7 linked regions of the Homo sapiens genome follow. The protein of the gene in region 5 purifies or fractionates together with the protein of the main gene of each other region. This does not show direct contact. Each region holds a gene or a part of one and is shown on either strand. Other genes may lie near its edges. The genes, in order: AHCYL2, C5orf22, GINS1, GINS2, CDC14B, PPP1R12A and ANKRD28.

Evidence for each region.
Region 1: the proteins of CDC14B (region 5) and AHCYL2 purify together in Homo sapiens (affinity purification with mass spectrometry; one large-scale study listed by BioGRID and IntAct). This does not show direct contact.
Region 2: the proteins of CDC14B (region 5) and C5orf22 purify together in Homo sapiens (affinity purification with mass spectrometry; one large-scale study listed by BioGRID and IntAct). This does not show direct contact.
Region 3: the proteins of CDC14B (region 5) and GINS1 purify together in Homo sapiens (affinity purification with mass spectrometry; one large-scale study listed by BioGRID and IntAct). This does not show direct contact.
Region 4: the proteins of CDC14B (region 5) and GINS2 purify together in Homo sapiens (affinity purification with mass spectrometry; one large-scale study listed by BioGRID and IntAct). This does not show direct contact.
Region 6: the proteins of CDC14B (region 5) and PPP1R12A purify together in Homo sapiens (affinity purification with mass spectrometry; one large-scale study listed by BioGRID and IntAct). This does not show direct contact.
Region 7: the proteins of CDC14B (region 5) and ANKRD28 purify together in Homo sapiens (affinity purification with mass spectrometry; one large-scale study listed by BioGRID and IntAct). This does not show direct contact.

The regions. Positions count from the first base shown.
Region 1 is NC_000007.14:129,392,530-129,396,029, reverse strand, and holds part of AHCYL2 (adenosylhomocysteinase 3), read right to left. Parts: intron 1-3,500. UniProt on the Homo sapiens protein: May regulate the electrogenic sodium/bicarbonate cotransporter SLC4A4 activity and Mg(2+)-sensitivity. On the contrary of its homolog AHCYL1, does not regulate ITPR1 sensitivity to inositol 1,4,5-trisphosphate.
Region 2 is NC_000005.10:31,549,301-31,552,426, forward strand, and holds part of C5orf22 (UPF0489 protein C5orf22), read left to right. Parts: intron 1-1,992; coding exon 1,993-2,132; intron 2,133-3,126.
Region 3 is NC_000020.11:25,410,673-25,414,172, reverse strand, and holds part of GINS1 (DNA replication complex GINS protein PSF1), read right to left. Parts: intron 3,057-3,500; exon of another isoform or gene 2,887-3,056; intron 384-2,886; coding exon 319-383; intron 1-318. UniProt on the Homo sapiens protein: Required for correct functioning of the GINS complex, a complex that plays an essential role in the initiation of DNA replication, and progression of DNA replication forks.
Region 4 is NC_000016.10:85,678,955-85,682,454, forward strand, and holds part of GINS2 (DNA replication complex GINS protein PSF2), read right to left. Parts: intron 2,728-3,500; coding exon 2,628-2,727; intron 1-2,627. UniProt on the Homo sapiens protein: Required for correct functioning of the GINS complex, a complex that plays an essential role in the initiation of DNA replication, and progression of DNA replication forks.
Region 5 is NC_000009.12:96,617,044-96,621,258, reverse strand, and holds the start of CDC14B (dual specificity protein phosphatase CDC14B), read left to right. Parts: upstream 1-1,415; 5' UTR 1,416-1,880; coding exon 1,881-2,040; intron 2,041-2,314; exon of another isoform or gene 2,315-2,902; coding exon of another isoform or gene 2,903-3,044; intron 3,045-4,215.
Region 6 is NC_000012.12:79,806,098-79,809,597, reverse strand, and holds part of PPP1R12A (protein phosphatase 1 regulatory subunit 12A), read left to right. Parts: intron 1-1,020; coding exon 1,021-1,115; intron 1,116-2,267; coding exon 2,268-2,372; intron 2,373-3,264; coding exon 3,265-3,432; intron 3,433-3,500. UniProt on the Homo sapiens protein: Key regulator of protein phosphatase 1C (PPP1C). Mediates binding to myosin. As part of the PPP1C complex, involved in dephosphorylation of PLK1. Capable of inhibiting HIF1AN-dependent suppression of HIF1A activity.
Region 7 is NC_000003.12:15,675,980-15,679,479, forward strand, and holds part of ANKRD28 (serine/threonine-protein phosphatase 6 regulatory ankyrin repeat subunit A), read right to left. Parts: coding exon 3,497-3,500; intron 3,406-3,496; coding exon 3,322-3,405; intron 2,376-3,321; coding exon 2,230-2,375; intron 1,649-2,229; coding exon of another isoform or gene 1,635-1,648; exon of another isoform or gene 1,584-1,634; coding exon 1,501-1,583; intron 1,078-1,500; coding exon 995-1,077; coding exon of another isoform or gene 991-994; intron 11-990; coding exon 1-10. UniProt on the Homo sapiens protein: Regulatory subunit of protein phosphatase 6 (PP6) that may be involved in the recognition of phosphoprotein substrates. Involved in the PP6-mediated dephosphorylation of NFKBIE opposing its degradation in response to TNF-alpha.

The sequences.
Region 1 (3,500 bases), on a different chromosome or scaffold from region 5:
GATTTGAGGTCATAAAGCACAGAAGTGAACTGCCCTCCAAAGAGTGACAAATCCTTTTAAAGAGAGAGGGAAGACTGTTTCACCTTTGGCAGTGCATGGGGGGAAGAAATGGCTGCCACAGATAAGAATAAGAAAATATCAGCTAAACTTTTGAACAATTACGAAAGGCTGGGTGTGGGAAAGTGTGTCAATGTGGAATTTTTTGAAGCTCCAGACACAAGTAGATTTCCCATTCACATGCAGGCTGTTTTCCAGAGGCTTCCACCCAGTGCTCAAAACAAAGACTGGGGCAGGGAGCTGATTGGCTGTGCTCAGAAACAGACATGAAACCTGGGCACTTCCCTACACTCTTCTCTCATAGGAACCAAAGCCTCAAGCTGTAGGAAGAGCAGGAATTGGGCCTGCCATTAGGGACTAGGCAAAGATCCACTGTGTCTGGAGGAAGGCAGAAGCAAAAACTCTGCCTCTGGGAGAGGCACAGGAAAACCTCTTGGGCCCAGGACAGTTCACTGATACAAAGTAAGGATCTGCTACCTCTCCAGCTCTCCAGGAAGGGCAGGAAAATATGTCTTGCCCAAGACCCACCACAGATTCAAGGCAAAGTTTGGCTGCTACAGATAGGAGAGGCAGGAATATTGAGAAAACCCTGCCCCTCACAGAGGTCTGCCTAAGACTGAGACTGCACCAGAGATCCAAGAACCCCACTTGCCCTCACCGTGTGCTTAGCCCCAGGAAACAAAGAGCAGCAGTCTAGTGCGGCAGATGAGGCAGGTACTTGAAAAGAGGACACTTCTGTGGCACACATGTGCAGAAGTAGCTGAAGGCTGAGGGTAAAGCAGAAGCACTGAGGAATGTCCTTTGGTAACCTCAAATCACAAGGTTATAGCAGTCCACTGCTGGAGGAATTTGAAGCCTTTGTTGATATACAATGAACTCTAAATTCAGCCCAATTCATGACTATAACGAAAACTAATATACTACCACTCAATTAAAAATGTCAGGACATACAAAAAGTAAAAAAAAAAACCCACTGTCAGGAAATAAGTAAACAACAGAGGCAGGCTCTCAGATGAGCCAGATGTTTGATCAGACAGGAGATATAAAATAACTATGATTAATATGTTTATGTTATTTATTTATATTTTTTTATACACAGGATCTTGCTATATTGCCCAGGCTGGACTAATATGTTTATGTTAAAGGATCTAGTTGAGAAAGATAGACAACATCTATGAATAGATAGAAAATTTCAGCAGAGATGGAAACAATAAAAAGTCAAATACAGGCTGGGTGCAGTGGCTCAGGCCTGTAAAGGCCAGCACTCTGGGAGGCCAAGGTGGGCAGATCACCTGGGGTCGGGAGTTTGAGACCAGCCTGACCAACATGGAGAAACCCCATCTCTACTAAAAATACAAAATTAGCTGCTTGGTGCCACATGCCTTTAATCCCAGTTATTCGGGAGGCTGAGGCAGGAGAATCGCTTGATCCCAGGAGGTGGAGGTTGTGGTGAGCCAAGATTGCACCGTTGCACTCCAGCCTGGGCAACAAGAGCAAAACTCTGTCTCAAAAAAAAAAAAAAAAAAAAAAAAGTCAAATACAAATGCCAGGAAAAAAAAAAAGTCAGATTAAAAGTTCCTTCAACAGGTTTATCATCAGACCGGGCACATCCAAGGACAGAATCAGTGAACCTGAAGATAGACCAATAAAAATTACTGAACTGAGCCAGGCACAGTGACTCATGCCTGTAACCCTAGCGCTTTGAAAGGCTGAGGCAGGAGATCGCTTGAGGCCAGGAGTTTGAGACCAGCCTGGGCATCACAGCAAGATCTCTTCTCTACAAAAAATTAAAAAAAATTAGCCAGGCATAGTGGTATATGCCTGTAGTCCCAGTTACTTGGGAGGCTGGGGCAGGAGGATCGCTTGAGCCCAGGAGTTTGAGGCTGCAATGAGCCTGCAATGATTGTACCACTGCACTCCAGCCTGGGTGACACAGTGAGACCCTACTCAACAAAACAAAACAACAACAAAAAAAGAAATTACTGAACTGAAATACAAAAAGAAGAAGACTGGCAGAAAAAAATCACAACGGAGTGCTCAAAATCTATGGGGTCTATGGGAGTCTATGGATTCTTTCCCTCTTTGCCTTCTGGAACTCCAGTTACATGTATGGAGAGGGAAAAAAGAGGATCTGGGAACAATGACATTTCAAAAGCAAAGAGCACATTAGTGCCCAGATCCACTAAAAGGAGCTAGGCATTCTGGGAGAAATGGCTGGTTCCAAGAGTAGGGCATGGAATGTTCAAGATGAGCTTAGGTGATCTTGTACCAAAAGCAAGGAAATGTTCAAAGAATGAAAGGGATATATCAAAAGACAAAAGAAGTCACAGAAGCCACACTGAAGAGGCTCTCCCTGGTCAAACTGGGAACAAGATGATCATGTAAATAAGTAATGATAGTAATGGATTATAACCTATTAAATAAAATAGGAAACAATGATTCCATACAAATAAAAATAATGAATAAATCAAAGTAAGATAAAGAATGAGATATTTACAGTTTCATAGTACTATCTCACATAAACATATTAATTCTATTTTTATTTATTTTTGAGACAGGGTCTCACTCTGTCACCCAGGCTGGAGTGCAGTGCAATCTCAGCTCACTGCTCACTGCAATCTCGACCTTTCGGGCTCAATCAATCCTCCCACCTCAGCCTCCCAAGTAGCTGGAACTACAGGCACATGCCACCACACCTGGCTAACTTTTGTATTTTTTTGTAGAGATGGGGTTTTACCATGTTGCCTAGGCTAGTCTTCAACTCCTGGGTTCAAGTGATCTGCCAACCTTGACGTCCCAAAGTGCTGGGATTACAGGCGTGAGCCATCACACCCAGCCCAAAAAACATATTAATTATAAACTGGGAAAAAAACTTTTACAGAGGAAAATCCTGGGAGACACCACCTCAATCAAGGGATTAAAGTGAATATCATCAGTTCTGGGACAAACTGAAATCATGTGTCACCTGATAGGATATATCACTTCCCTGAATTCCCACCATAGATGTATAGCCTGAATCTCATAATGAGGAAGCATCAGAAAAATCCAAATTGAGGAAATTCTACAAAATAATTCATCTGTAATCTTCAAAAGTGTCAAGGTCATGAAAATCAAAGAAAGACTGAGAAACTGTTCTGTACTAATGAAGATTAAAAAGACATGACAACTAAATGTGACATATAACCATGGACTGGATTCTTTTGTTAGAAAAATATTATCAGAACAACAAGCGAAACTCCAGTGGGATCTAAGGATTGGATGGTAATAATGAATCAATGTTAATTTTCTACTTCTGATGGTTATACTGCTAGTACAGGAAAATGTCCTTCTTTGTAGAAAATACACACTAAAGTATTTGGGGATTGCTATGGTCTGAATGTATGTTCTCCTCCCCCAGAGTCATATGTTAAAAACTAACCCCCTAGGCGATGGTATTAAAAGGT
Region 2 (3,126 bases), on a different chromosome or scaffold from region 5:
CACAGTCACCTCCCACCAGGTTTCTCCCATGACACATGGAAATTGTGGGAGTTACAATTCAAGGTGAGATTTGGGTGGAGATACAGCCAAACCATATAATGAGCAAAGCAAAAGAATATTTTGGTGAAACCTAAGCAAATCCAAGACTTAAACTTTTTTGTTTAACTTTTTTTTTTTTCCCCTGGGAGCATATATTCAAATTGCCCTGAATAAACACTTCCAAGACTTACACTTTTTAAAAATGGTAATTAAGAAGATCGTTATAAGATACTTAAGGTTTGAAAATGTTTTGAGGCCAGGAGCAGTGGCTCATACCTGTAATCCCAGCACTTTGGGAGGCCAAGGCAGGTAAATCGCTTGAGCCCAGGAATTTGAGACCAGCCTGGGCAACATGGCAAAACCCCATCTCTACAAAAAATACAAAAATTAGCCAGGTGTGGTGGTGCACACCTGTAGTCCCAGCTACTTGAGAGGCTGAGGCAGGAGGATTGCTTGAGCCTGGGTGGTTACAATGAGTTGAGATCCTGCCATTGGACTCCAGCCTGGGCAACAGAGTGAGACTTTGTGTCAAATTTAAAAAGAGAAAGAAAATGCTTTGAATTCATACAATATTATCAAATATGTCTGCAGGCAGGTCTGCTTTAATCATTACATTGCATCTGGGTTTTTTTCGTTGGGTGGGTTTGATGTTTTTTGGGGGGCAGGGAATGGCTAGGGCTCAGTCACAGATTATGTAATCCATTATGATATGCCCTACAGCTGCAGAGATAGAACGCTAAATAGTTTTATCATTTTGGCAAAATGAACATCCAGAATTCATCCTTTTATCACACTGACTGATCATTGCCAGTTAAATTGTTGATGTGTATCCAAAGCCTCCAATAAAATATTTGATTAGTGTGTTTTTTCATACTTTGCACTTGCGTACTCTAGGCAAAACTATGACATAGTTAAGTTCCAGTTTTCAAAACATTAAAGTTAAGGTTGCAGAATGGTAGCATGTGAGCCACTTCTAACTTTCAGGCAAGTTTAGTGTAGTGCTAAGACTAGAACATATTCCATTCAAATTTAAAACACATAGGTAGATAGCAGTAGCTTATGGTTATACATAAAGGATACACAAGAAAACAGTTTGGTTAAATAAGGTAGGATAAATATTTTCTCTTGTATCCTCTCAAAGCTTTGAATGTAGTACTAGGTGCACATATTAATATTTAAAAAGTAAGTAAAATAATGTGTTAAAAATGAGATAAGAATATGTACAATTTTTTTTTTTCTTTTTGAGACGGAGTTTCGCTCTTGTTGCCCAGGCTGGAGTGCAATGGCACGATCTTGGCTCACTGTAACCTCTGCCTCCCGTGTTCAAGTGATTCTCCTGCCTTAGCAGGAGAAGCTGGGATTATAGGCATGTGCCACCACGCCCGGCTAATTTTGTATTTTTAGTAGAGACGGGGTTTCTCCATGTTGGTCAGGCTGGTCTCCAACTCCCGACCTCAGGTGATCCGCCTGTCTCAGCCTCCCAAAGTGCTGGGATTACAGGCATGAGCTACCACGCCTGGCCTCAACTTTTTAGAATCTAGATGAAATGGATAATTTGATAGAAAATGTGAATTACCAAAATTGACCCAAGCCCAATGAAGTAGTTAAAGAATTATTCTAAAAAGAGGCATCTGGCCCAGACAGGCATATAGGCGAGTTCTACCAACACTTCAGAGAGCAGATAACTTTTATGACATAGAAACTGTTAAGGAAAAAATAATCCCAATGCATAAAAATATTAAAAATTAAAAGTTTTTCATATTTAAGGTGTTGGATATCCCAGTTACCCTGATTTGATCTTTATATGCTATTATGAATCACATGTACCCTGAAAATATGCACATCTTTTATGTATCAATAAAAGTAAAGATTTGTCAATAAGGCCATTAATGATTAAAGAAGCTTATAAAAACAACTGTCATACAGTGTAATTTTTAATTGTCTTATTTTCAGGTTCACCAGGCTGGTTTAACCTGCGATTATTCAGAACTTCCTCACCATATCAGCACAGAACAAGAAATAGAGTGTCTTATTCAATCTGTGCATTATTTGCTGAAAAATTTACCAAATCCTACTCTTGTGACAATTGCAAGGTAAGTGTGTTCAGCAGAATAATGGCAAATCAGAGATGTGCACATCCTAATCTCTGGAACCTGTGAATATGTTACATTATATGGCAAAAGGAAATTCGCAGTGTGATTAACTCAAGGATTTTGAGATGAGATTATCCTGGATTTATCAGGTGGGCCCAGTGTAATCACAAGGGTCATTAGAAGAGAAAGGCAGGAGGGTCAGAATCAGAGAGAGTGATTCGAAAATTCTACACTTCGGGCTTTGAAGGTGGAGGCCACAAGCTAAGGAACACAGGCAGCCTTTAGAAGCTAGAAAAGGCCAGGGGACAGATTATCCCTGGGATCTTACAAAAAGAATGCAGCCCTGTCAGCACCTTTATTTTAGGACTTCTGACCTCCAAAACTATATAATAAATTAGTGTTGCTTTAAGCTACTAAGTTTGTGGTGATTTTTTATAGCAGCAGTAGGAAACTAATACAATCTCTGTAGGTAAATAACCTGGTCACTAGAGCGTAAAATGAGTTTATCAGTGGTCTTACAGATTATCTCTTTAGGTTTGAAATACTTGTACTAAGGAGTAGGCCAGATAACTAATTCCAGTTCTTCTATAAAGATTTCTGTGCTGCTCTTCTCACTCTGTCCTCTAGAAGGCTTTATTCACCCTTATCCGGAACCAGGAGACACTGGTTAATCCAGTTGTAACTGGCAGCAGCATTGTAACTGCCCAGTGCAACTCAGGTTGCAGTTGGTAAGTTCTGGAAAGACTCCCAAAATACAGATATCTGCCCCAACCTACTTTGCTCTTTTCTGCTTCCTACTGCCTAGGAAAGTAAATCCAACACCAGCACATCGCCACATTTCATTTTGGACCAAGCCATGGATCCTTTATAATTTTGTAGTTAACAAATCATTTTTAGAAATAGGATCCTTTTATCAGTTGGAAAACCTCGACCCTCATCATTTCTAGCCCTAGCACACACATAATAAAAGATGTTCCATCGCTAAGATAATAAG
Region 3 (3,500 bases), on a different chromosome or scaffold from region 5:
CTATCGCCAGGCTGGAGTGAAGTGGTGCAATCTCAGCTCACTGCAACCTCCACCTCCCGGGTACAAACAGTTCTCCTGCCTCAGCCTCCTGAGTAGCTGGGATTACAGGCACCCACTACCACACCCGGTTAATTTTTGTATTTTTAGTAGAGACAAGGTTTCACCATGTTGGCCAAGCTGATCTCAAACTCCTGACCTCGTAATCCGCCCGCCTCAGCCTCCCAAAGTGCTGGGATTACAGGCGTGAGCCACCGCGCCCGGCCAATTTCAACATCTTAATTATTGAATTGTTTTAGAATATCATCTTATGAAACTTACACATCAGACTGGTTTTGTTCATACAAAGCTTTCATCTCCTCCAGAACTTGTCTGAGTCCATCCTCCTAGAACATATAAACCGATATTGAAATCCACTGATTTCCCCACCAATTCTGTGGCAATATGCTATCAATACTGAACTGTATCTTTCATTTATATACTTTAGCAAAAAGCAATAGTCCTTTCACACCCCACTAGCATGGTTATAACAAGTGTTGGTGAGATGCGGAGAAACTGGAACCCTCGTACATTGCTGGTGGGAATGTAAAACGGTATAGCCCTGTGGGCAAAAACTTGACAGTTCCTCAAAAGCTACACACAGAATTACCATATGACTCAGTAATTTTACTCCTAGGTGTATATATATACTCAAGAAAACAGAAAACACATGTTTTTTGCAGCATTATTCATAACAATAAAAATGTAGAAACAACCCAAACGTCCATCAAATGATAGATGGATAAACCTTCCACTTATCTGAAAAATCTAATATAATAAAAAGAATGGGTCAAGGGTGGTGGCTCATGCCTGTAATCCCAGCGCTTTGGAAGGCTGAGGCGGGTGGATCACCTGAGGTCAGAAGTTCAAAACCAGCCTGGTCAACATGGTGAAACCCCGTCTCTCCTAAATATACAAAAATTAGCCAGGCGTGGTGACAGGCTGTAATCCCAGCTATTCAGGAGGCTGAGGCAGGGGAAATCGCTTGAACCCGGGTTGCAATGAGCCAAGATCATGCCATTGCACTCCAGCCTGAGCAACAAGAGCGAAACTTCGTCTCAAAGAAAAAAAAAAAAAAAATGAACTACTGACAACATACACAACAATGAGGATAATCTGAAATACGTTATACTGAGCAAGAGATGCCTGACACAAGAGTTTACATGAAATGATTCCCTCTGGCCCTTCACAGGAAAAGTTTGCCAAAAAGAATAATATCATCTGTAGTCAGAGAAAGCAAATTCATGGTTGCCTAAGGCTATAGGTGGGAGGTAGCTACAAAAGGGGGGCAAAGTTACAGAAATCTTTTTTAATTTTTTTATTTTTGTGGGTACACAGTAGGTATGTATATTTATGGGTTATATGAGATATTTTGATAATTACAGAAATCTTGATCAGGGTGCTGGTTATAAAGATGTACATATTAGTCAAAATTCAAAAATCTATTAAAATACACATGTTGTATGTAAATTATACATCAATAAAATTGACGAACAAAGATATCAATCGTCCTACTGAAGCATGAGGTATAAAGAAAAATATGTAAATAATTCATAATTTACTAAAAAATGGTCTTTTTTTTTAGATGGAGTCTCACACTGTCGCCTGGGCTGGAGTGCAATGGTGCAATCTCGGCTCACTGCAACCTCTGCCTCCTGGGTTCAAGCAATTCTCCTGTCTCAGCCTCCCGAGTAGCTGGGATTACAGGCGCCCACCACCACGCCTGGCTAATTTTTTGTATTTTTAGTAGAGACGGGGTTTCACTATATTGGCCAGGCTGGTCTTGAACTCCTGACCTCGGGTGATCCACCCGCCTCAGCCTCCCAAAGTGCTGGGATTACAGGGATGAGCCACTGGGCCCAGCTTAAAAGTGATCTTAAAAGGTTAATACCAAAAGAAAGAAAAAGGAATAGTGTTTTTGGTTTGCACTGCAAAAACCGGCCATAGGAGTTTTTCTAGTATCCAGTTTCGGGCAAATTTTCCCTTGGAAAAATAAAACATTAGAATTCTGATTTTTTTCGTTGTTGTTGAGATGAAGTCTCACTCTGTGGCCCAGGTTGGAGTGCAGTAGTGCGATCTCAGCTCACTGCAACCTCTGCCTCCCAGGTTTAAGTGATTCTCTTGCCTCAGCCTCTCGAGTAGCTGGGACTACAGGTGTGCACCAGCAATGCCCAGCTAATTTTTTTTTTTTTTGAGACGGAGTTTTGTTCTTGTCACCCAGGCTGGAGTACAATGGTGCAATCTTGGCTCACTGCAACCTCCGTCTCCCGGGTCCAAGCAATGATTCTCCTGCCTTAGCCTCTCAAGTAGCTGGGATTACAGGTGCCCATCACGTCCAGCTAATTTTTGTATTTTTAGTAGAGACAGGGTTTCACCATGTTCACCAGGTTGGTCTCGAACTCCTGACCTCAGGCAATCCACCCACCTCAGCCTCCCAAAGTGCTAGGATTACAGGTGTAAGCCACCAAGTCTGGCTAATTTTTGTAATCTTTTTTTTTTTGGTAGAGACAGGGTTTCGCCATGTTGGCCACACTGCTCTCAAACTCCTGACCTCAAGTGATCCGCCTGCCATGGTCTCCCAAAGTGCTGCGAGTACAGGCAGGAGCCACCGTGTCCAGCCCAAAATGATTAAATGTTACCCAATAGGTCTGCCAACAATCGAAAGAGAAGCAATCCCATCTCTTTTTCACTGTCTATTTTTAGGGCCAAAATATATGTGTTGGCAAAAATGCTGTGGCATATACAAATGGCACAATTCCAAAATCAACTACTCAACTCTGCTCAAAAGATGTAATTCCTGATGGAAAATGCAAGCATGACTTCTACCTGAGCCCAAGGTAATTTTCTTACCTTTTCCTTTTTGAGACAGGGATTCAGTCTGTCACCCAGGCTGGAGTGTAATAGCGTGACCACAGTTCACTGCAGTTTCAACTTCCTGGAGCCATGCAATCCTCTCACTTCAGCCTCCTAAGTTGCTGGGACTACAGGTGTGTGCCACCACACCCAGCTAATTCTATTTTTTGTAAAAATGGGGTCTCACTATGTTGCCCAGGCTAGTCTCGAACTCCTGGGCTCAAGTGTTCCTTCCACCTTGACCTCCCAAAGTGGTGGCTGGGATTACAGGCATGAGCCACCATGCTTGGCCTAACTTTCTTAAAAATGTACTTTTTAAAAAAAGTATCAATTCTGCATATAGAAAGGGTGTAATCACTTTTCTGTTTGCTGAACACAGCGCTTAACCATGAGTGATTCCAGAAGAAAAGCCTGTGTGTTGGGCCGGGCACGGTGGCTCACGCCTATAATCCCAGCACTTTGGGAGGCTGAGGTGGGTGGATCGCCTGAGGTCAGGAGTTCGAGACCAGCCCGGCCAAAATAGTGAAACCCCATCTCTACTAAAAATACATAAAATTATCTGGGCATGGTGGCAGGCGCCTGTAATCCCAGCTACTAGGGAAGCTGAGGCA
Region 4 (3,500 bases), on a different chromosome or scaffold from region 5:
TCTGTCTCAGGATAACAGCATTCCGTGCTGCCTAACCTCCATCTACAAGGAATCAGTTTCGAGGGCTGGCTCAAAGGTCGAGTTCTATTGCTCCTCATTTACAGAGTGTTGAGCAGATCTCCCTATTCCCCACCAGGAATCCAGGGCTCACAGCCTAGAGAAGGAAAACGCCAACTCCATGCCAGGTACTGGGCTCAGCACTTTACCTGGCATTTCTATCCTCACAAAAGCCCTGAAGGGAAGGGACTCTCCTGCTCTTCAGAGAAGACAAAAACAAGTTTCAAAAATCACAGAAGAAACTGCAAATTAGTATACAGTGAGCACACCTACACATAGCAAAATTCTGGCTAGAAGCTCAAAGCCAGCAAGGGATGAAGGAAGGCTTTCACAAAGTCGAGGCTCCCGTTGTGAAGTATTTTAAACTAACCTTTGAAGAAAAACTACACGATAAAAGCAGAAGCAAATATTGTTCGTCACTAGGCATTACAGGTTACGCTAGACATTCTCTCCATATGCTACAATTAATTCCTGATGAGTAAGTGGCAAACCACTGGTACAAAATTTATGTAGTGAGTTTTATTTATAAACCCAAACATTTAGATCTTGTGCTCTCAACAGCAGGTTAAAGGACAAAGGACCCCAACTCCTCGTCAGCTGAACTATAGAACAAACGTAAAATTAAGTCCCTTAACCGAATGAATTATAAAACAAGGTTTTTGATAAAAACTACATCCATAATATATTGAACTTCAAAAACAAAAAATGGATAGGCCCCCTCACCTAGCTAATGCCAAATTCTTACCTAGCCTGTTTATAGATCCTCTCCCTTCCAGCTACCATCCCCACCACCACTACAGTCTCTCTCAGGTCCCTCTGAGGCCACATGCCCCTCCCAGGGGCTGGCCACTGCAGCAGAACCTATGCCTCCATTCCTCTGCTCCCATGAATGTACTACACATCCTCAAATATCTCTGCTTGCCCGGCTACACCAGGTCCTTCACACTCTGCCTGAGCATATCAGTTCCTGCCTCACTGCCCTCTCCCCTACCGTCCACCTCCTACAAGTCTGCACTCCCAGCAAACCTCTGTGAGCCCTCTCTGGCACCACCTGGCCTTACTGCGCTCTGATGGACTGTCAAGAGCATTGGTCACACTGAAGATTCACTATAGGCTCCCAGGCCCACATCTCTCCCGCACCACACCAGGAAGCAGGCCTATGGGACAAACGCCACTGCCGAGTGGAATGCTTGGTGCATTGCTGCTTCTCAGCTTTTTATGAAATTCATGGGCTGACTGCAGCCTCATCTCAGCCTAAGCACAAGCCCATGTTGTGTCCCCAACTTTTCCTTTAAATTCAGCAGCGCCATTCAGTGGGCTCCCAGCCCTTCCTGCTGCTCTGCAGCATGCAGTAGTACTAGTGTCACAATTTTTTATTCTAGTTCTGCTCTTGAACCCAGTTAAAGGATACCCGGGGAGCTTCAGAAGCTTGAAATTGTACAAATGACATTCTAAGTATCTCCCAAGCAAAATTATCCACCCTTGTCTGCCTTCTTCACTAGTTTCACTTTCACTCAACAAACATGAGCCGCAGGCATCTCACTGGGGACATATGCATACGAGACCCAGCCCCTGCCCATTTAGAATGGGTACATGTGATGGCACAGCCAGGCAAACAAGAAAATTACAACTGGCAAATGCCATAGCAATGTGTAGAGCTGCCAAGAGTACATGTGTGCTGAACCCAGAAGAGACATGTTATGCTAACCAGCAGAGGTGAGCAGGGGCAGGGAAAGGACAGACTTACAGGGCAGAGAACAGTATATGCAAAGTCAGAATGCTTGAAGAAGTGACAGGGGCCAGTGTGAGCCTGAGCCCTCCAGAAGCAGAGAAAAGAGCTGTAGAGAGGGTGAAAGAGGGAGGAGGAGCACGCACTAGGCTGTACACTGCTTGAACACCACGCTCAGGTAGACGAGAGGGAAGACAGGATTTTAAGCAGGGAGTCACATGGCAGTTCTGCCTTTCAAAGGCCCCTCTGGCTGAGATGTGAAGAATGAATGGAAAGCTGAGCGGAGCCAGTATGGATGAAGGCAAACAAGCTACGGAGTTACTACAGCATGATTTTGCCAGGAAGTGGGCTTTCCTGTAACCCAAGGACAGAGGCAAATGTAAGCCCTCTGGCCTTTCCTGCGAAAGACACAAAAAAACTCAAATCCACCTACTCCAAGGAGAAACAGGAGTAAAGCTGTGCTAAATAAAACACATACATGGCAAAGAATGGCTACTGCCGATTCTGTGAGATGCTGGTGGCTCACACTGGGGTCCAATGTCGAGTGATGTGAGGCAGAACAAAAAGAGCCAAGGGCTTCACCGGGAAGTGGAGAAAAGGAAAAATGAGAGACAGAGAAAGGCAAAGAACAGACAGAAAGACACACAGAGACAGACAGAGTGCACCTGGCAGGTGTGTGTACACAGATGACCTCATGGTCACTGACCTGAGAAACAGGGCGGCCAGTGTTGCCACTTACTGAGGCAATAAGCAGGGAAGCGGAGAGGAAGGACGAGGGTTAGGGGAAGGGCATGGCGAGTCCAGTCTTGGGTGTGGCCTCTAAGAGGTGAGATCTACTTACTGATTTAACAGGAGCTTCGTAAGTTCCATGTAGTAAGGGCTGGGCATTGGGGTAAAAGTTTCTTCCTTTCGTTCATGATCCCTCATCTTCTCCAACTTTTCTGAAATTTAGAAGTTAATACATTTTACCATCATTATAACCAAGATATTTATTAAACCTTCCAAATTTACCAAGTGCCTATATTATCTGGCAAATACATTATCAACTAGCAAATACATGAAAAAACATTTTGGGATGACATTTGTATCATTATCTAGATGATTTGAGGCCTCCTCCTTGAAACTTTCTCTCCAAAAGAAAGGTAAATTTTTGTCGCTGCTTTAGCCTGCAGAAGATATTCCTAAAAACAATGTTAGAGTCAAAAGTTTGATGTTTGTTGTGTTTTGCTTTTGTTTTTTTTCTTTTTTAGGGAAACAGCAAAGTGATTTACCTTTACCGCCTTTTTTTTTTTTTTTTTTTTTTTTTTTGAGAGGGTCTCTCTCATGCCCAGACTGGAGTGCAGTGGCACCATCACAGCTCACTGCAGCTTCAACCTCCTGGGCTCAAGCAATCCTCCCGCCTCAGCCTCCCAAGGAGTAGCTGAGATCACAGGCACATGCCACCATTTATTTTTTGTAGAGACAAGGTCTCACTATGTTGCCCAGGCTGGTCTCAAACTCCTGTGCTCAAGTGATCGCCCTGCCTCAGCTTCTCGAAGTGCTGGGATTATAGGAGTGAGTCACCTGGTCAGTATTAGACCTTTGATGCAATAAGTGATCAAACTAGTCAGTGACTTAAATTTATTTATACTAAGCCTTGTTCAGAAGGGAGCAAGACAACTTACAAAACTAGAGCCACCCCAGCCTGGGCGCGATACAATATCCTAGGGGGGTT
Region 5 (4,215 bases):
TTCCAATGCTGAGCCCCTAGGCCGGTCTGAAAGGTCTCCTCCTCCTCCTCCAGGTCAAAACAAAGGACTGTGACCCTACCGTTTCTGCTCTCTAAAACTTACTTGCGCAGCGCCGCACAGCCTCCCACGTCTCTAGCTTCTTTGCTGCCCCTACAGACAGACATGTAGATCATTTTAAATTTAAGGCCTTCACTGATTTCCTTAGGGGAAACAGAGGAAGAGTGAACAGGAGAACCAACCTTAAGAAAAAGTGCTTACAGAGTTGCTGATCTCTAGCTTCAGACACAGCCCCCCTACTTCCTTATTTAGCCGTGCTTAAGGTAAAAGCCCACAACAATAGAAGTCAAAGAGCCCCTTCCTGAGGTGCTCTATGAAAATTTGCATTTCTGAGAGGCTTCCAAGGGGACTGACTCAAATTCATCTTTCTTTTCCCCAGGCTGGCAGTTAACTGCGGAACTGCAGGATAAAACGTTCAAGTGCTGGTGAAAAATAGGGACAGCTTGCAGATGTTGTAAAATTTGGGGCCGTGAAATCTTAACACTGCCCTCCAATCTTCTCACCCTTTTAGATGCTACCATGGACGTTTGTTTAAAGGCCCTCCAAAATGACAGTTTTTGGTTAAGTTCCAGGAAGATAGGGCATTATTTTAATCCAGTAGAAAAAGAAGAGGATATGACCCTACAGTGTGCCAGATAAAGAAGTTTAAGGACAAAACTTGCCCCTTGCTTCAATACTTCATGATATAATCGGACCTGTCGACACCTCAGTATACACAGCAATGAGTGTATAAACTTACTGAATTAATGTGGGCGCTGGATTCCGAGATGAGAAACTCTGAGGTGCAAACAACCACGGTATATTGTGGTTCCACGGAAGTTTCATCGGGTCCTTAAGAAGCCCTTGCTTGGCCTGTTTGAATGCTGGGCATAGGTCGATAAATAGAGCGTAGTTGTTTAAATAGTTTTACTTAAGTTCTGAAATCAACTCTACTTTAAATCTATATAGCTGCAGGTAATGTAATCAGGCCATCCTCTTCCAAGCTGGCAGCCATGGCAAAAGTCCCTTTCTCTTGGCGCGAATTACAAGGAAATTCAAGAAATACTTTAAGATATATATATGCCAAAGACCTGGAGTTAAGTTACTAGGGTGGGGCTGTGTAAATGTTTGGTGACTCACTAAAGAAAGTTGGGATCTGGGGTGCTGGCACCTGGAGGACACAGAAGAAACAAAAGTTGGGGGGCTGGCGAAGGTCGCTAGCACACTTTATCTCTGATTGGCGGAAGCCCTCAGAGTTTTCTTTATGGCGTCACCGAGTACCTGCCTGTAGAAAGGCCCCGTCTCCGTGACGTCACGCCGCATTGGCCAATGAAAGGCCTCAGTCTGCGGGCCCCGAGGAGGGTTGTGGGCCCTTTTTTGTGAATGAAGCGCCACGGAACAGCCCTCCTGGGGTCCCCACGAGCCGCGTCCTGCTGTGCCCCGGCGCCTACGCAGCAGCGGCCGCGGCCGCGGTGGGCACGCACGGTTACCCCGGGCAGCTCCGGCCGCCAGCTGCAGCCCCGTCGCCTCGGCCGCGCCAGCCGGCTGCGGGCACCTGGGGGCGGGCTGGGGGCGCCGGCCGCGGCAGGAGGCGCTGTAGCGAGGGCTGCGGCGCCGGTCCTGCGGCGGCCGCGGGAGGCAGCGGGGCAGGCGCTGTGGGCCGGGCTCCTCCTCCGGCTCCTGCGCGACCGCCTCCCGCCGGGCTCTGCCGGCGCCCGCCGTCCCCGCAGCGCCGCTCTGCGCCCGCCGCCCCGAGCGCCCGCGCGGGGCTGGCGGGAGCCTCGGCGGGCGCGCGGGCGCGCGGGGCCATGGTCGTGGCCCCCTGACGGGCCGCGGCCGCCTCCATGAAGCGGAAAAGCGAGCGGCGGTCGAGCTGGGCCGCCGCGCCCCCCTGCTCGCGGCGCTGCTCGTCGACCTCGCCGGGTGTGAAGAAGATCCGCAGCTCCACGCAGCAAGACCCGCGCCGCCGGGACCCCCAGGACGACGTGTACCTGGACATCACCGGTGAGCCGGCCAGTGGGCGCGCGGAGGGCCCCGGACGGCCGCACCCGGCGCGGGGCCCTGGCCCACCTCCCACCGGGCTGCCCGGGGCCTCCGGGGCCGGGCCGAAATGCCTTCGCCCCCACCCCCTTAAACGCCCCGGCCGCCACACCCCCTTTAGGAGCCTGGCTCCTGAGGAGCGCCCCCCGCCCCGAGTTTCTAGCTGCGTGGGCTGCGAGCTTTAACTTTAGCTTGTGCACCCTCCTCCACCAGCAAGATGGACCGAGGGTCACCTTTCTAAGTTGCGGGCGTCAGCCCGGCGCCTCGAACCTGCAGCTCCTCCCCGCGGGCTGCTTCTGAGTTCCTGTGGATTCCGCCTTCAGGGATTGCGAGCCCGGTTGGCCCTCGCGCGAGTCACAACCTCTGAATCAGCCCCTGAGGATTCCCCGAGCGCGCTGAACGCGCCTGGCACGGGAGCTGCCCCTTTTTGGCGTTGGCCAAACCCCCGCTGCTCCGTAGCCTTGGGACCCTGGGCGCCGCGTTGCCCGTCCGGCGCGTAAGCCCGAGCCCCTCTCCTGGGCCTCCCGCGCCCTGCCCCCTAGCGCGCCCCCCGAACGCCTCCGCCTCCCGGGGTCCGCTCCCCGCCGGGGCCTCGAGAAGGAAGGTGTCACGTTGGTGGCATTCGAGCCAGCCGGCAAGACGAATGTCCGGGTTGTCACTTTTGAGAAATCCCAGCCAGCCAGAGCAGGTAGCCAAGCAGCCCTTCGATAGCTGTTCTGTTAGTGCTGATTCGACTGTTCTTGGAGACTCATAAATCCAATTTGGCAGCTGTTAGGTTTGCTGGGATTGACAGTGACGCGTGTGAAGGCATTAAATGTGATGATGTATGTGGCAACGCTGTGTAAACAGCAGAGCTGTCCACGATTTTGAGGGAATTGGCAGTCTGTTTTCAGTGGCGGGGAATGTGTCAACCTCGGTGCGTGGCGTTATTAAAAACTGTTTCCAGCCCCTAGCCTTTGATAAACCAGGTAAGCTGGAGTGGCGAGAACATTAAGTGGAAGTGTTTAGACAAACACAGACGTTTAGGAGAAATAATATTCTAGGTTCATGGACAATCTGGAAACTAAGTTCGTTTTGAAATGAAGCTGAGAGCAGAGCGGGTTTCTCGGCTTTGGTGGATGGCCCTTGGGAACCAGAGCGGGCATAGGAAGGGGTTGCCCTGAGTACCAGTCCCCGGCCGGTAGCTGCGGGGGGTGTGCGGGAGGTGAAGCCTGCTGAGACTGAGAAGCCAAGTCCCGCTAACGTTGTGCCCTTCCCAGGAGAGGGCCTCGCCGAGGACGGATGGGGCTGGGAACGGGTGGGCCTATACATAGTTTCTGCCCGTTATTGTTTATACCTCTTGAAAGGATCTGTGTTGAATGGGATTTAATTTTAGGACAAGTAATGCATTTACATGGTACAGAACTCCAATTCTAAAGGTGCACAGGAGTACGTGCAGAAAAGTTGGTCTCACAGTCTCCAAGTGTCCTTCTCTAGAGGCAACTACTCTTCCCAGTTTCTTGTGAAGCCTTCTAGAAATAGGCTGTGCATGCATACTATATATACTATATATTCTCTACCATACACGTGCGAGTAGCACACATGTTGTTTTGCACATTTTTCCGTTTTCATAGTGTTTCTTATTAGAATGATTGTTCTGAGTTGGTGCATATAAGACTGGCTTACTTGATTTTAATTACTGCTTAGGCCAATGTACATACGGTTTTATGAATAAAACCATTAACAAGTACGTATGGATTTAAATGTTTATGTAGATTTGAATGTTTTTTAACCTATTTAGACAGTCCCTGTTGATGAACATTTGGGTTTTCAATCAGAAGGTTTGTGACAGCAAAGTCATTGGAATAAATCTTTCTTCTTGATGGAGATGAAATATGTGGCTAGTCTTCGTGAGGCAGTCACCAATTAATCAACTTCAGAAAAATAGAACCAAGCAGAATACTGAGGAGGGGTGCGTTACAGGAAATAAAAATGCTATCAGAGGGCAACCCGCTCTGGTCCCCTTCCACGCTGCGGAAGCTTTGTTCTTTTGCTCTTCACAATAAATCTTGCTGCTGCTAAAAAAAAAAAAAAATCCTATCAGATTGCAAGCCCTAATAACGGAAGGGTCCAGCTTTAATGTAAGGGAGCTCCAGGGGA
Region 6 (3,500 bases), on a different chromosome or scaffold from region 5:
AAATTATGGGACTATACTCCGTTAAAGGAATCTATTACCTTACTTGAGAATTTATAATAGAACTGTATTAAGGAGCAGGCTTATTTTGTTTATTATGATTCAAGAAACTTTCTGAAGTTTAAAAAACATAGGAACACATTTATTCTAGAATGTTAGTATACTCATAAGTTACATTTATTCAGTATCTGAAAAAAAATACCAGATTTTTCATCTACCATATTACAAGCAACTTTGTCTTAATGAGTAAATTTAATAACTATTTTGAGAGGTGGTATTAATACTGCATTATATAGGATGTACCACAGTTTATTCAATACTAGTATTTATTTCTACAGCATATTCAGTGCTTGAACTATTTTTTTTGCCCATACAGTTTTCTTTCTATACTTAGAAATGTTTCCTTATATCAGAAATTCAGATGAAATTTCTCATCAAGTAATTCTAATATTTTTGCTTTTTTATCAGTTTACTGTGCAGTTGGTTTCCAGGTATTTTATGCCAGCTTACTAGGAATGTATCAGAGTGTCATTGTCACTACACACTCTTAGCCATATTTGGATAAATATAATTTAAATAATATTTGTTTTGACTATTTTGATGTATTTGAGAGCATTGATTATCAAGGTTCTAAATAGCTTATATAATATAAATGCTTGAGACCTCTCAGTGAACAATATTTGAAAGTTTATTTCTCTGGAAGAAATAAAGATATTTCAGCTTATGACACAGTATTAATCTGTTAGAGAAGTTTTAGAAAAAGTCATTAAAATCTGGAGAAATTTTTTTCCTTTCTTAGTAAAATATTATCTGATTCCAGGCTAAAAGAGAAAGAAAACTAATTTGAACAGGCTGATTATTGATTGACATTAATTTTAGAGTTCAGCTAGGAATTGTTGAAATACTGTAAACTATGATAGCTATGTAATTATAATTATTGAATAACCTTTTCTTAATACTTTTAGCATTGCCTATAGTCAGTACCCAAATTAATTTTTACTTATTTTTTTCCCTGTTGTGTAGGAGAAAGATAGTAAAGGAACTAGGCTTGCATATGTTGCACCTACAATACCAAGACGACTAGCCAGTACATCTGACATTGAAGAGAAAGAAAACAGGTGAGTTTATTTTGATTTGCTTTATGCATTCACTATAAAATCTTTATTATCTAGCATTAGAGTTAATACATGAGCATTGTAATTATGTGCGGATATGTATTGTGGGAAGAGATGGAGGATATTCCTGAAGGAGAAAATACCAGGTACATAGTCCTGAGGAGGTGCAGGCTTGGTATGTTCATGAAATAATAGCAAAGAAGATGTGGCTGGAACAGAGTAAGGGGAAAGTGGGAGGAGATAAGGTCATGAACTAGTATGAGTTCTCTAAATATTTGGAACATTTAGGAAAGGGGAAAGAAGAAGGAAAGCCCTTACTTAATCATTTTAGTTTGTTTTAAATATTTTTGTTTAAATATTGTTTAAATATTTTAGTTTCTTCCTGTTTTTCAGCTTATAGAATTTTATTTTTTTAATTTAATTATTTTTATTTTTATTTTTATTTTTTTTGAGACAGAGTCTCGCTCTGTCACCCACGCTGGAGTGCAGTGGCGCAATCTCGGCTCACTGCAACCTCCACCTCTCAGGTTCAAGTAGTTCTCTGCCTCAGCCTCTCAAGTGGCTGGGATTACAGGCACCTGCCACCCTGCTCAGCTAATTTTTTTATTTTTAGTAGAGACAGGGTTTCACCATCTTGGCCAGGCTGGTCTTGAACTCTTGACCTTGTGATCCACCTGTCTCGGCCTCTCAAAGTGCTGGGTTACAGGTGTGAACCACTGCACCCGGCCAATAACTTTTTAATATACTTTTAATCATGTTATAATATCTAATTTTTTTATTTTTTTCCCCTAAGATCTCATAAGCAGTCTTCTATGTTAATATATATTTTTAATAAGCATTTTTTTTGTCGGCACATAACATACTATAAAGTAGATCTTCTGCGGTTAAAGTAAGCATCTCCCCTACTTTATATTTTGTGATCAAAAAGCATATTTCTATAAATATCTGAATTTTCCCCCATACTTAGGGGAAAAATTATACCTTAGGGTATATAATCTTAGTACTGAAATTACTTTATCTTCTTGATTAGTATTCCTAAGTGTCCTCCCAAAGGTTTTTACTAGTTTCAGCTTATACTAATATTTACTAGTGTACCGCTTTCTTAATCCTATTTTAAAATTATGTACCAGAATCTGAAGGGTGTTCTTTTAACAGAGATTCTTCAAGTTTGCGAACAAGTAGTTCATATACAAGGAGAAAATGGGAAGATGATCTTAAAAAAAATAGCTCAGTTAATGAAGGATCAACGTATCATAAAAGGTAATAATACTATTCTTAAGCGGTTTTTATGTATTCATTTATAAAAATATGAGGCAATTTGTTTGGAGCCCTCAGTTTAACATCATTTTAAACAAATATGTGTTTTTATTAAATACGAGTTTTTGTTGTTTAAAACTTACTCTAAACACAGGATATATATTTAAAGATAGGTGATAATTTGTTATGCCTATTATATAATTAAGCTTCAAATATTATGAAATGTTTTTTGGATTGTTACATATTTAAAAGGAACTCCTTTAGAAGGAACTCCTTGACTAGAACAACTTAAACAGGCCAGTGTCTTAATGGATCTAGTTGTCATTGTTGATCTGGAAAGATTTGGCTTGCCCTAGAACTCAGAGCTATGGAAATGCCTTCAGTTGGAATGTTGGTAGTATCATATTGAAGAGGAAAAAAAAGCCCTATAAACAATTTCTTTACTAAAAGCAACCAAAAAGAATAAGATGTGAACAAGTATCATGTAGGCATTGGTTACTTCCGAGGTATCTGACCCATTGCTGAAATAATTTCCTTCAAAAAAATGTCAACGTCTTGTTTTCCCTGGGTAATACAAAACCAAAGTGTGTTTTTCAGGCTCAGCCTGGCATGACCATATGGTGTGGAATAGTTTCAAAAATATGAAATATCAGATCATCTTTGTCTTGTTGAGAAAGTTGGGAGGAGGCACTAAAATGATACACTACCGAATTAAGTGAAATCTTCTAAACTCTAGCAAGTTGTAGATGCAACTCTTGGTGCTGGAGCTGGTGGTGTATTTAGGAACACAGTTTTTAAATTTTTTTTCTAGCCTTGTAATTTATATAATGTATAGACATTAACTATAGAATACACATACAAACACATCCTATATAGATATGACTCTTTTGTTTAGTTGCTCCTTTGGTAGAAGACAAGATGATTTGATTAGTTCTAGTGTTCCAAGCACCACATCAACACCAACAGTTACCTCTGCAGCTGGGCTTCAGAAAAGCCTGCTTTCCAGCACAAGCACTACTACAAAGATTACAACGGGTTCTTCCTCAGCAGGCACACAAAGCAGGTAAGTCACAGATACATTTTGTGCTCAGGTCTACTGTGTGCTTATGTATGTGCATGCGTTTTTGTTTA
Region 7 (3,500 bases), on a different chromosome or scaffold from region 5:
ATGCAGAGGTCTAGGGGAAAAAACATGATACATGTACACATATGTGCATGTGCATGCACATACACATACACACCTGGCTGTCAAAGAGCATTTTTGTCAACTTGTGAAGACCAAGAGGTACAAACTCGAGAAACCTAGTCCTAATAACAAAGATGGGGGCAGGGAGAGCAGAACCTCTGTGCAGTGCACTGTCACACCTTGTCAACGTGTAGCTCGGCATCAAGCTCAGCCATAGGTCCCATCGACAGGTCCCTACCTTCACCCAATCCTTTTGTTACTTTTCTTTTCAATGTTTAAAAACATTTTACCATTGAAATTGCATTCCTCCGTTGTTAAGGAATGAGGCTGGTAAAGATACAGACTATACATTAAAAACTGTAAACTGCAGTAGCATAAATTCTAATAGGCTTTGAAAACAGCTTACAAGCATCATGACTAATTTTTGGACCTTCAAGGGATCTGACTAATCCCAGAACGGGCAACAATATTCTAAGATTTTTATCTTTACTAAACCTCAAAATGGAATAGCAAGGGACAATGAGAGACACTGATGTAAGATCTCTGTCAGTCTATCTGGAGGTTGGCTGCTCACATTATTAAAAATTTTGATTCTTTAAGAAACCTTATTGGCTTACAGACACACATAAAGCTTCTTACCTCATTTATTGTTAGTTTCAAGTAACATATTATTACAGTTGATTTCCACAGAATACACAAAATAGTACTACTTTCCTTCAGAAAATTAGGTAGGTGGATTAAGGAAAAAAATACATTATTGTCAATGTTATAATAAAATTTCAGTTCAAAAGCATTTTAAATAATATGGCTTTTAGTTGTGATCATTTTAGAAATGAGTTTTGACAGTTGTAAAACTATTAAAATTGCTTCTATGACTAATGAAACCTATTCCAATAGTCACATGTTTAAAAAAATCCATTTATCATTTTTATAATTATAGGTCACAAAGTTTATACTAGATACTGACAGTACTCACGTTTGCAAGGCTGCGTTGGTTGCATTGATGAGGTTTCTATCTGTTATCTTTTCCAGTATTAACAAGGCACTAGTTTCATGACCCTATAATTGTGGCAGATAAGTTATAAAAACTTGAGCACCATTAAAGATACATTTATACACCCAACAATCTGCAATCCTAGTCCATATATTATGTACAACACCATACATATACCATGAATTTTCCTGGCTAATATCTTAATATTTGCCCAAACACATCTTGGGAGTGAGGGTAGGAGAAGAGGACAAAATTAAGATTAAGGAAAGAGGATAATTATGCTTAGACTTGTGTTCCAAAACTTATTTGGCTTACTGGAGACTTTGATACGCCATGGTGCCTTATAAGTCAATTTTGTTCAAGAAATCTAATACCAGTGATCATTAGAGAGGTTTGGTCCTGAGTTGTTCATTTTAGTGAAGTCAAAAAACTTTTAAGGTCACTGTTAATATTAACAATGGAAACATATTCTTAAGATGTATACATACCTTGCTACAAGCCAAATGGAGGGCAGTATTTTTACTGTTATCTTGTAAAGTCAGTTCTGCACTAGCACTGCTAACCAGCATCTCTGGGAGGAAAAAGTGCATCAATTCTTATGTTTATGAACATGTTTCTTAGATTACCAATAACTCACTGTAGAGAAATGAAGATACAAAGCAAAAAAGTCCCTCTCACAAAAACTTAAGTACAAGAAAAATATTGTAATATATAACATATATATCTTCATATAATTGTATGAGACAATTATATTGTTGTATAAGTCACACACTCTAACAATGGCAATTAACATTTATTTTGTGACTGTGCACTAAATTTTAAATACTGTTTTATATGCTCTGGATTTAAAGTAATTTATTTAACCCTCACAACAACACACCAAGTAGATACTGTTATTTTTCTCATTTTATAAATGAGAAAACTGAGGCATAAGGTCATTTAGCTGAAAGATCTAGGACTCACATTCAGGCAATCCAACTCCACAGCCAGTGTTCTTAACCACTATGTTATAAGGCCATGGTAAAGTAGACTCCTCAATAGTCAGGGCAAACTAAAACATTGTATCCCTAAATGAAAATGTGGATTGCAAACAGGTAAAAGGTTTTAAGTCTTAGGAGTGGTAAGATAACTAGTTGAAGTCAGAAGTCTTGGGATCTAAGTTATACATAAGTGATACACATACTTAGGAAAATACAATTTTAAAGAAGTTTCTTTACCAACTGTATTTGTTTGTCCATTTTCTGCAGCCATCATAAGAGGTGTTTTCCCTGTAGAGTCCACAGAATTGACTTGAGCATTATGGCTGAGCAGCAGCTGTAAACACTCTACATGGTCTGTGAAGGCGGCTGCATGGAGAGGAGTTCTGTGATAAAGAAAAATTGAAATATATGACTAAATTTGAATGTTATATATGCTGGAAAAATATTCTTTAATTTGTGACATGCTGTTTTTAAGGGTTTACATATTAGGCTACAAAAGCACTGCCTGTACACAAACAAATAGGCTCAATGGAGCTTACTAATTTCTCTCATAGAAATTTGTACTTTCAATAATACAGAAGGCTTTAATTAAACTAGAACTAGTATGAAGTAAAGATTAATTACAAAATTGCTAAAATAACATTACATCATTAAAGGAAATTTTGAAAGAAATAAATCCTAATCTGAATACCACCACTTATTACAACTGCTGGACTTTTTTCCAGGCTTTATTCCCATTTAGAAAACTGTTAACTTTGTTAACAATAATCTTTGGGAAACAAATTCGAAAGAGAGGGAAAAATATTTACATGTTAAAATAGTTTAAAGGAGGAAAACTTCCTAAAATCTATAAATAGAAAAACCTTTTATAATGTAAAAATAATTGAGATCTTATAACAATTTATACTCGCAAATATAAAAATCAACTTTTAATAATGGGTTTTCTGTAAATTCTCTCACACCAGCCAGTAGTTAAAATTTATTTCTTATTGAAAATAAAACCTTTTTGGGGGGTAGGGCCCAGACGGGATCTCACTCTGTCACCCAGGCTGGAATGCAGTGGTGCAATCATAGCTCACTGTTGCCTCAAACTCCTGGGCTCAAGTGATCCTCCTGCCTCAGCCTCCTGAACAGCTGGGATCACAGGCATGCATCATCATGCACTTTTTTTTTTTTTGGTAGAGATGCAGGTCTTGCTATGTTGACCAGGCTGGTCTTAAACTCCTGGCTTCAAGTCATCCTCCCACTTCAGCCTCCCAGATTGTTAGGATTATAGGCATGAGCCACTGTGCCTGGCTAAAACTATTTAATACATAGTTGAATTCCTACCTTCCTTTTGAATCTGTGGCGTTCACAATGCTGGCACCTAATGTATCAATTAACATCTCAGCAGCACCTTCGTTGTCATTTATCCTGTGTAAGGTAACAAGGTGATCATTCTCACAGCAATGGTGTATTTCTTAAAACACTCAAACCAAATCTGATTCATTCTGGCTTTACTTACACGG